Linked DNA regions of Homo sapiens: regions 1 and 3 are each reported to be linked to region 2. The links are microRNA targets in miRTarBase. Many come from high-throughput screens and were not tested one by one. Region 2 holds a microRNA gene; each other region holds the end of a gene's coding sequence.

The links. Region 2 holds the annotated microRNA hsa-miR-7157-3p (UCUGUGCUACUGGAUGAAGAGU, at 1,943-1,964, shown strand). A microRNA usually pairs through its seed, bases 2 to 8, with sites in the 3' UTR of a target mRNA and lowers its output. Matches are read on the target gene's strand: a 7mer-m8 pairs with bases 2 to 8, a 7mer-A1 pairs with bases 2 to 7 and ends in A, and an 8mer does both.
Region 1: the mRNA of CEBPG is a reported target of hsa-miR-7157-3p. Seed matches in the 3' UTR shown: 7mer-m8 at 1,210-1,216.
Region 3: the mRNA of CSRP2 is a reported target of hsa-miR-7157-3p. Seed matches in the 3' UTR shown: 7mer-A1 at 2,520-2,526.

The regions. Positions count from the first base shown.
Region 1 is chr19:33,379,078-33,382,315 of GRCh38, reverse strand. It overlaps CEBPG (CCAAT enhancer binding protein gamma), which reads right to left. Exons shown (of 2, transcript NM_001806.4): 2 at 1-3,172. The coding sequence starts at 3,076. The coding sequence ends at 2,624. Among named protein-coding and RNA genes, the nearest start is that of CEBPG, 7.0 kb to the right of the region's middle.
Region 2 is chr2:140,585,329-140,588,589 of GRCh38, reverse strand. It overlaps MIR7157 (microRNA 7157), which reads left to right and starts at 1,905; the gene lies at 1,905-1,964. All of the region lies in intron 43 of LRP1B (LDL receptor related protein 1B), which reads left to right. RefSeq lists a silencer at 2,077-2,126.
Region 3 is chr12:76,856,374-76,859,634 of GRCh38, forward strand. CSRP2 (cysteine and glycine rich protein 2) reads right to left here. Exons shown (of 6, transcript NM_001321.3): 5 at 3,174-3,261; 6 at 2,336-2,655. The coding sequence ends at 2,579. Among named protein-coding and RNA genes, the nearest start is that of CSRP2, 21 kb to the right of the region's middle.

The DNA.
Region 1 (3,238 bases), not on the chromosome of region 2:
GACCTGCATTTCGGACCTGGTCGTGTTTGATTAAAATCTTACTACTTAGTGATCTGCACTGGCATCCCAACAACTGATTGCAGGGGCCAGCAGCAGGAAGAGCTGCTCTGATCTCACCATCCGCAGCCAAAACCAGCCAAAGAGCACCCATCCCAGGAGACTCAGATGCAGCTAGAAATTTATGCTAAAGCCTAACTCCTAACTATGCTGGACCTGCCCACAAGGGCAGATCACATCCTAGTGGTTCACAGGTCACACACAGAACAAAAGTTACAAAAGTCACCTCACAATTCCCGAAGCTCTAAATTGATTCATTCCCCACACGTGGTTTCCCTAATTTTATACTGATAAATCTATCAAATTAAAAGCTTTCATTTCCAACCACTTCAATAAGATAGACAACACCATGCTTAACATTTTTGTTCTCTGCCTAATTGCTTGCTTCTGCTAAACTTTGCATTTCCATGGCTAATAGGAAAGCTTGAACCCATTTTTCCAAAAGTTCCAATCTTGTGTTCTGATTTGAAATACTGAGTACACACCCCTGATGCTTTCTCTAAAGTTTCTTTTTCAAGATACTTAAGTCAATTCATATAACTGGTATAAATTCCATGGGAGCATCGAATTCCCAAGAGATTTAAATGTCTGTAGCGCCTACCATAGGTGCTTGCTTATACATTCAAGTGACCTAATGCATCTCCAATTAAGTTAATTATGTAACACCAATCAGCTGCTAAGGAGCCAGTAGGATCCTGTGGGTGTGTCCTGGCTAGTTTTTCAAAACATCTCTCATCCTTCATGGGTAGATTCATACTCCAAGGTAAGCTGGTGTTGGACCCTAGAAACCCCTATCCTGTCTCCTGGCTCTATAGGGAGTTAACAGCCCTCCTGGGACAGCTTCTCCTGGGCTCCAGTTTTACATTCAGAAGGACCTCACGACTCTTAAGAATGGCTTTGCTGAGTTGCTGGACACCATGATGTCTTCTCCTGCCCAGAAACGGCACGGTCAGCAATCTTCCACCAACCGGAGGGTGCAACTTGAGTTTTATTCTGGCTACATCATCCCAAGTCCTAGTATGAAACAGCAATGTGGCCAAAAATGACCATGTTCAAATAAGATACCTGATAACACAAACTTTTAAATCAGTTATGACTCAGTCTCTCATCTCCAGCCCAGGCACACAAAAAATACACAAATTTGAGCTAGAACTGTGCTAAGAAAAAAAGAGAAAGAAAAGAAAGCAAAAGAGAGAAGAAAAAACGTTGACAAAGACAATCTAAACTACCAACACTGACGTAAGCCAGACTCTAGAGTCCCTACTTTAGCGACTGCCATTTTTTAGTCTCAACAAAAATGTCAATATCCTGAGTTTTATCAGCATTTTCTGAAATAATTTATGGGACACAAAAGCATATAAATGAATAAACAGAAGCAGTGGTACAAAGTCTGGAAAGCCCACTAACCAGAAAAAGAAATGTCACAACAACAATATCAAAAGATGTATTTAAGAGAAATAAATTAAAGGTTAAAACCTTACACTTTCAAGTTTTCTTAGACAATTATTTTGGGAGATGGCATGGAGTTGATACATTTCTCTAATAATCACTTGGTTAAGATCAAATACCAAAATGAGCCTTCAGAAGAAAATTTTGACTTTAAAAGTAACAGCCCCATGGCAGCTATTTTGAACACAAGAGAAACTACCTTCTGAATTAATATTCCAAACCCTCATCAGTAGCTTGTGTCATCAAACTGTTAAGATATTTTGTTTACTAACTTGGTTGTCAAAATTGTATCCAAAAAAACACTAGCATCTGCAGAAACTAAAATTTTGGTACACAAGTTTCTCTACACCACTGAGTTGGGTTTTTAGAATAAAACAATGCCAATCTAAGCCCAAAGGTATCTCAAAAACATAATTCCTATGCTTTAGTTTTATTTTTGTGTTTAATCTATTTGCTTCCTAAATGTTATTTGTATTTTTTAAGTCAATTGGCCACACACTACCTATAAGATGTGATGAAGTTTCTTTACTTAACCTGACATTGCTACTCAAAAACTTGTACTTTTGGGGGAAAACAGTACTAATTATGTTAAAACAAAGTTTATGCCATATATAAAATCACTCCAAATTACACACTCATTGCTTTCTATAGCTCTACGAATTTATAATACATAATTTAGAAGAAAATCACAAATAGATTACCATAGGTGGCATTCAACTTTTCTTAATCCAATTCAGCCTATCCATTAAAACCAAGAACCTTCTGCGCGGCCTGCCAGTTCCCCATTCCTTTTGTCAACTTAAAAAAGAAGCATTTCTTGGGAAGTCAGGATTTATTAAGAACATCGGGATCCCAGATATTTCTTTTTTTACCATATACCTTAACATTTGGGGGATTTTGATTCCCACAAAAACCTCTATCATTTAAAACCAGATATTCGAATTACAAGGCTAACATTTTTAGCTAATCAACTCTTCAGTGCTGATCCCAGAAAATAGCCTCCAATGGGTCTTTGAGTCATGGAAATGGACAACTTTCAGCCATTGACATGAGTGGTGTCGGTGGTCACACCTTTAACATTCAAGCCACAAGCTCTAAAGTCTGGAAAGGGTGAGGTCTACTGTCCTGCATTGTCGCCATCTGCTGTCGTATTTTCAGTGCTAATGGACTGTACGTTGTCTGCAAGGTTGTGTGCATGCTCAAGAAACAAATCTTTGAGTACACTTAATTCCTTGGTCAGCAATTTGATTTTTGCTTCCAACCGTTCATTCTCTTCTTTGAGCTGATTGACTCTCTGCAGTGTGTCTTGTGCTTTCTGCTTGCTTTTCAACCGGCTCTTTTTCACAGCCATGTTGTTCCTCTCTCGGCGTTGCCGATACTCGTCACTGTTTCGATCCATGGGCGAACTCTTTTTGCTCTGCTTGCTGGGAGCCACAGCTTTGCCTCCTCCCCCAGGGCCAGCAGGCACCAGCTGAGGAACCTGCTGTAAGCCGCTGGCATGTGCCTGGGTATGGATAACACTAATTCCGTTCACCCCTGGAGTGCTGTTTTGCTGCGATATCTTGCTCATTTGGGCACTCTCCCTTGCCAACACAGAACAGGTAGAAATGAGAGCAGGGTGATCAATGGTTTCCACGCTAAGCTGCCAAAAAATCTTCACATGTACCTAGTTAAAAAATAAATTGCATTAAAATATTTGAAATGACAGGATCAAATGAGATCAAACTTGTAC
Region 2 (3,261 bases):
CCATTTATTTAATGAGTTTGCCACTCTGTCAATAACACACAGCCTTGATTTTCAAAGTTATTTTAGTTATTTTATTTTCTTTGCCATTTTGCATAAGTTTTAGAATAATCTATCCACATCTACAAAATGTCTTTCATATATCTATAGTGTCGTCAGGTATATTCTCTGTCTAACTTTTTTAGCAGTTGCTTTAGGTACTGCAGTATATATTCATTACTTATCAGTCTACAAGCATCACCATTTACCCAGTAAAGCGAAGCATAGAAACTTTACATCCCTTTATGTTTCTTTAGCCTCCCCTGTTTGTAATATAATTATCTTCAAGATTTACTCTGCACACAACAGTGTTAGATTTTTTTTGCTTCAACCATCAAACAACTTAGAAAACTCAGTATAAGGAAAGCCTACTTTTATGTACCCGTATTTTTGCTCACAGTGTTCTTTCTTTTTTCTTGATGTTCACAGGCTTCTTCTTTAATTGCTTACTTCCCTATTGCTTTCGAAAATTCCTTTTGTCCATTCTTTGCCATCTGTTGTGGCATATTATCTTAATTTCCTTTCATCTGAGACTGTTTTGATGTTCTCTTTATTTCTGATATTTTCACTTGGCATAGGTCACTGGGTTGACAGTTTTCATTTCATATTTGAGAAATATTGGGCCACTTCTTTCTGTTCTCTGTGATTTCTGATGAGATATCTATTATTATTAAAATTGTTTTCTTCTATGTAACATGTCATTTCCCCCTCGCTGCTATTAAGATTTGCTTCTTGTCTCTAGTTTTCAGAAGTTTATTTTTATTTTTAATCAGCAAATAATAATTGTGTATATCTCAGGAGTACAAGGTGATGTTTTGATATATGTATGTATTGTGGAATGATTCTTCAGGCTAATTAACATGTTAATCATAACACCCATGTACTTACTAATTTTTGTGCTATTTATCTCCAAAGTTAATTTCTCGTGTCTAACTGGAAATTTGTATCCTTTGACCAACATCTTATTCCCCATCCCATCTTCACTCCAGCCTTTGGTAGCTACTATTCTACTCTCTACTAATAAGAGTCTGACTTTTTAGATACCACGTGTGAGCTCATGAAGTATTTGTCTTTCTGTGTCTGGCTCATTTCATTTAGCATAATGTACTCCAAGTTCACCCATGTTGTCACAAATCACAATTTCAGAAGTTAAATTATGATGCGTCTTGGGTTTATAGTCTCTGAGCTTTAGTCTGCTTCTCGAATCTGTAGGTATATGTCTCTTGCCAGATTGGTGGTTTTCAGCCTTGACATTTTTCAAGTCCTTTTTAGCCCCACGCTTTCTCCTCTCCTTGTAGGACTCTTTGACATGAATGTTAGGTCTTTTACTATAGTCTCACAGGTCACTGGAGCTTCGTTCAGTTTTCTTTCTTTCTGCTTTTTCTTTGTTGTTGTGACTGGCTATTTTCTATTATTCTACTTTTTAGTTTACTGACACATCTTCCATTTCCTCCATTCTGCTGTTGAGTTTATTCACTGAACTTTTTATTTAAGTTATTTTACGTTCAGTTCTAAAATTTCCATTTTGTTCCGGTTTCTTTCTTCTATTTTTTTTACTGAGATTTTCCATTTCTTTCCTAAAGCCTTTATTTTTAAAAAAATTTTATTATAGCTACTTTTAAATCTTTTTCAGATAATTTTTACACCCCTGTCATCTTGGTGTTGGCATCTATTAGTTGTGATTTTTTCAGTCTCTTTGAAATCTTCCTAGTTCTCGGTATGATGAGTAATTTTGTTTGAACTTGAACATGTTCTACTGCATGTATCTCCGTATTTTCAACCCTTCTGTTTTTAACTGTCTTTCCCTGACATCGGTCTAGGAGGGGAAAGTGAGGGGTGCTACCCTATCGGAGTAGCAGGTCCCCCATTCAGCATTCATTGGCACCAGAGATGAAATTGGGACTCCTCTGTGCTACTGGATGAAGAGTGGGAGTTCAGGCTACCTAGATGGCCTCTACAGTGTCACCTAGAGGATGATGGTGGAAGTCCTGACCCTCCAGTGAGCTGCTTCTGACACCACCTCAGCAGAGAAGGGGTGGACACTTCATTACCATCAGGGGTGTGTGGAAGCCCAGGATCCCCACTTGGCCTTTGCTGGTGTGGGTGTGTCACAGCCTTTTTCCTGTGGTGGCTGGCTATAGTAAAGTTTTCTGCTGTGCTTGCTAGGTTGTTTCTTTCCTGGTCTTTTAGCTAGAGAGAGCAGATTATTATTTTTATTTTTTCTGTGTATGTTGCCATTTCTGGGTTGCCAGCTTATACGATTTGAGTCTGAGATATATGAGACAAAATGACACTTAGGAAACACACTTCCATGGAATTTCTTGGTCCCAAGATACCCAGCTGGGTTGCTTTTTCTCTCTACTTTTATAGTCACCTTATGTTTGTTTTATGTATAATTTCTAGAGTTTTAAGTTGTACATAAGGATCAAGAAATGTCTGTCTAGTCCATTTTTCTAGGAGCATAAGTTAGTGTGCTCATAGATTTTTAGACATTCAGAATAGAAAAAAAGGGAAACATCTATTTGAGTTTTTTTAAAGACACTTTTAAAGATCTAAGCTGATTTATGTTCTATAAGTCTGTAAAACAAGGCCCTTGCATTGCCAATGAATTTAAACAGGAATAAGACTTATTAAAGACTTATTAAACACACATGATATGGCATGAGCTGCAGGCCAAAGACATTGAAATCACTGATTTTCCACCTAAGGGAAATAAAGATTATGAAAATAAAGATGGTTGATTGTGTTGTCTAAATTTTATTGTCTTTAATGATAATGTGTAGATGTGATCACAGAGTATATAATAAAGTTTATATGAATATATGACATTGCCAAATATAGGTGTCTAAGTGAGAATAAGAAATAAGTGAAAAGAAAACTAAAATTAGTGTTAGATAACATTGTTTCAGTGTTGGACTGGTTCAAAAAAACTGTGTGATCTTGAGCAATTATTTTAATCTTTTTGAATCTCAGATTTGACATTTTGGGCTAGACTTAAAATTATTTTCCAACTCTAAGATCAGCCATTTGATATATATTTTATAACACATTCATATACATAAGAAGATGGTGCCACATCTTGAATATTTTAGACATGGAGGCAGTCTTGGTAGTAAAATAGAACATACTGCTTTTCAGGAAGCAGTATGATGTGGGAGAAATTAATAAACTTAGATTGTTTAGACATGAATTTGAAACTTAGATATAAGACCTGTTGTTTAGTAA
Region 3 (3,261 bases), not on the chromosome of region 2:
TTAATACTGCATTCGGATTACTTTGGGGTTACTGACTTACATCCAAATGACCAAGTGATTCCTCCCAAGTCTGGCCCAAAGCCAATTTCCTTTTTCTACTCCTGGAACCTCTGGAAACTAATCTCACAGTGTTGGAGTAGCTATTTTGCCATGGCTCTCAATCAAGAATGATTTAAAGTATGAATGGATATCTTGTTTTATTTTACCAGACAGAAATCTCAAATTACCAGTCACCTGGAAACTTCATTTACATTGTTTTTCCTCTTGAATATCTACTAGCAACTCCAGTAGAGTTTGGGAAACATGGTAGGAATGCTAACAAACTACCCCAAACTTTGGTGGTCTAAAACATTTTTGTTCGTAGATCTGCAATTTGGTCAGGGCGTAACAGGAATAGCTCACTTTGCTCCACCTGGGATCAGCTGGGATGGCTCAAAGACCAGAGACTAGAATAATCTGAAGGCTGCCTCACTCACATGCCTGATGGTTGATACTGGCTGTTGAATGAGCTCTCAGCTGAGGCCTTAGCTATAATGCCTACATGTGGTTTCCTCATGTAGTCAGGGCTTCCTCAGAACATGGTGGCTGAATTCCAAGAGTAAGCATCCTAAGAGGAAGAGGTGGGCAAAAGCTGTATTGTCTTTTCTAACCTAGCCTTATCCAAAATAATAAATACTAAGAATGAGTCACTAAGGTGGGCCTTTATTCAAAGAGAGGGGAATTAGACTATCATTTGATGGGAAGGTCAAAGAATTTGTGGACATGTTCTACCACATACAGAATCAGAAGTTATTCCATAACTTCTCTCCTTCAGCCTCTTTGATTGCCAATTATTTCCTAGACTGCTTAACTACCTCTCCTGCCCCACCATGATGGAACTGGTATGCCTCATAAAACACCTGAAGTTGCTCAAGGCTATGATGTGAAATAAGCACCCAGTACACCCTCCACCAACTTCCTCCCACTTTGTTTCTGCTTATTTATTTTTTTTGATGTCGTACATACCATATCCCCTTTAGCTTTTTCAAAATAAGCAATATATTGGCCAGGCGTGGTAGTGCATGCCTGTAATCCCAGCACTTTGGGAGGCCGAGGTGGTTGAGTCACTTGAGGCCAAGAGTTCAAGACCAGCCTGGACAACATGGTGAAACCCCATCTCTACTAAAAAAAATAAAATAAAAAATTAGCTGGGTGCAGTAGCATGCCTGTAGTTCCTGCTGCTCAGGAGACTGAAGCACAAGAATCGCAGGAACCCAGGAAGTGGAGGTTGCAGTGAGCTGAGATCGCACCATTGCACTCCAACCTGGGCAAGAGAGCGAGACTCACACAGTATAGTATGTTAAAATGAACCTTGGAAAAGATTAAGATATGTTCACGGGCTGGTTCAATTTTACTAATAATACACATTACAGACCTATTACACCCTGCTCCTGGGGGTGAGGGAGTTGGATTGAATCTCTAGTAAAGAACTAAACTTTCTGGGGGAATAATGAAACCATACCTTATAAAGTCTAATGCTCCTCTTCTACCTAAGCCAGCTGAATGTGCCCAGACAATGCAACATTCTTTGCTACTTATACAGAATCAAAATGTGTGAAACACCCCAGTTTCCAGGACTTAGTAGGTCACCATCTATTAGATCACAGTGTAGAGTCTTTAAAAAGAATCATACTAAGTCTCTGATTCTATAATTGCCCATAGGTGTTTGTTTGTACTGAATTTTAGGTATAATCAAAAGAACTTACTTAAGAGTACGGTGGGGAGGGAAAGGAGGAGATGCTGCACTGCTGAACACCAGCTTTGAGGAGCTGAAATAATGATGCCTGTTGCCTAGCAACCTTTTTTTTTTTTTTTTTTTTTTTTTTTTGAGACGGAGTCTCGCTCTGTTGCCCAGGCTGGAGTGCAATGGCACGATCTCGGCTCACTGCAAGCTCCACCTCCCGGGTTCACGCCATTCTCCTGCCTCAGCCTCCCGAGTAGCTGGGACTACAGACGCCCGCCACTACGCCTGGCTAATTTTTTTGTAGTTTTAGTAGAGACGGTGTTTCACCGTGTTAGCCAGGATGGTCTCGATCTCCTGACCTCGTGATCTGCCCATCTCGGCCTCCCAAAGTGCTGGGATTACAGGCGTAAGCTACCGCGCCCGGCCTGCAACCTTTACTCTTAAGGCACACTTGCCTGCTTGAAAGAGAGATCCTTTTCAACAGCTGTAATGCAAACATGAACCTAGTGAGTCAGCTGGGTAATGGGGTAACAAAGGTAGGGAACCAAATGACTTTCCACTAACTGAAATCAGAGCATCTCCTCCAAAAGATTAATTAAAAGACAATGAACACCCAAATCAAGCTGAAGTTTTATTTAAAATGTAAAAGAAATGTTCCCCCAAAATGCTGGTGAATAAAGCAAAAGGATACCATACAGTGCTCTCTTCCTACGAGTTAGCCAGCCTATCCAAGTACAGGGCGATATACAGTACTTAATGCTGGTAGAATTTCACAGTAGTTTAGTGTTAAAGATTATCTGTGCCTAGATTATGAAGAGATTCTCAGTGTGTGATGTTTAGTTCAGGGTTTACATCTTACTGGGCATGAACAAGAGCCCCTGCTCCTTGGCCATAGCCAAATCCCTTGGGCCCAAAGTTCTTTGCATAGCATCCTACAAAGGAAAGGGAGGAAGGATAGTTAGTGCAAGTCCATTAAGCTTTGCTAGCACTGCTTAAGACCCACTCAACAAACCCCCATAAATTAAACTGCTGTGTAAAAGAGCTCAACTTATTTAAGATGTTAAATGTGTCATGTACTAAATATCTTAAAGCTGCAAAGACAAGTCCACACATTCTGGCCCTATAGTGTTCAGCGTGGTCCTGCTGAGTTGCAAGCATGAGTCAGGCCAGGTAAGGTATGTATTTGTCTGTTTTCTTCCATATACTTACGCTTTGCTCAAGACATGAAGGCAAAAGATGGCTATTTGTGGTGTTTTTATCTGGTGGGGAGTTTTAAATGATCAGGAACTTAACTGTGGTTCTCTGTCATCTATAAGCATCTTGGGATATTTTATTTTCAGAAAATAGTGGCATACTTTTCTTTTTTTTTTTTTAATGCCAGTGACATTTCATTAAACAAGAACCAGTGTGGAATATTCATATGGACAGCAGTAACTGAAATGAATTTTACCTTTACAATAGATTTCACCTTCTTTTTCAGTCAGAGTTGTTGATTCAAGACTCTTCCCACACTTTGCACATCGGAAACAGTTTTTGTG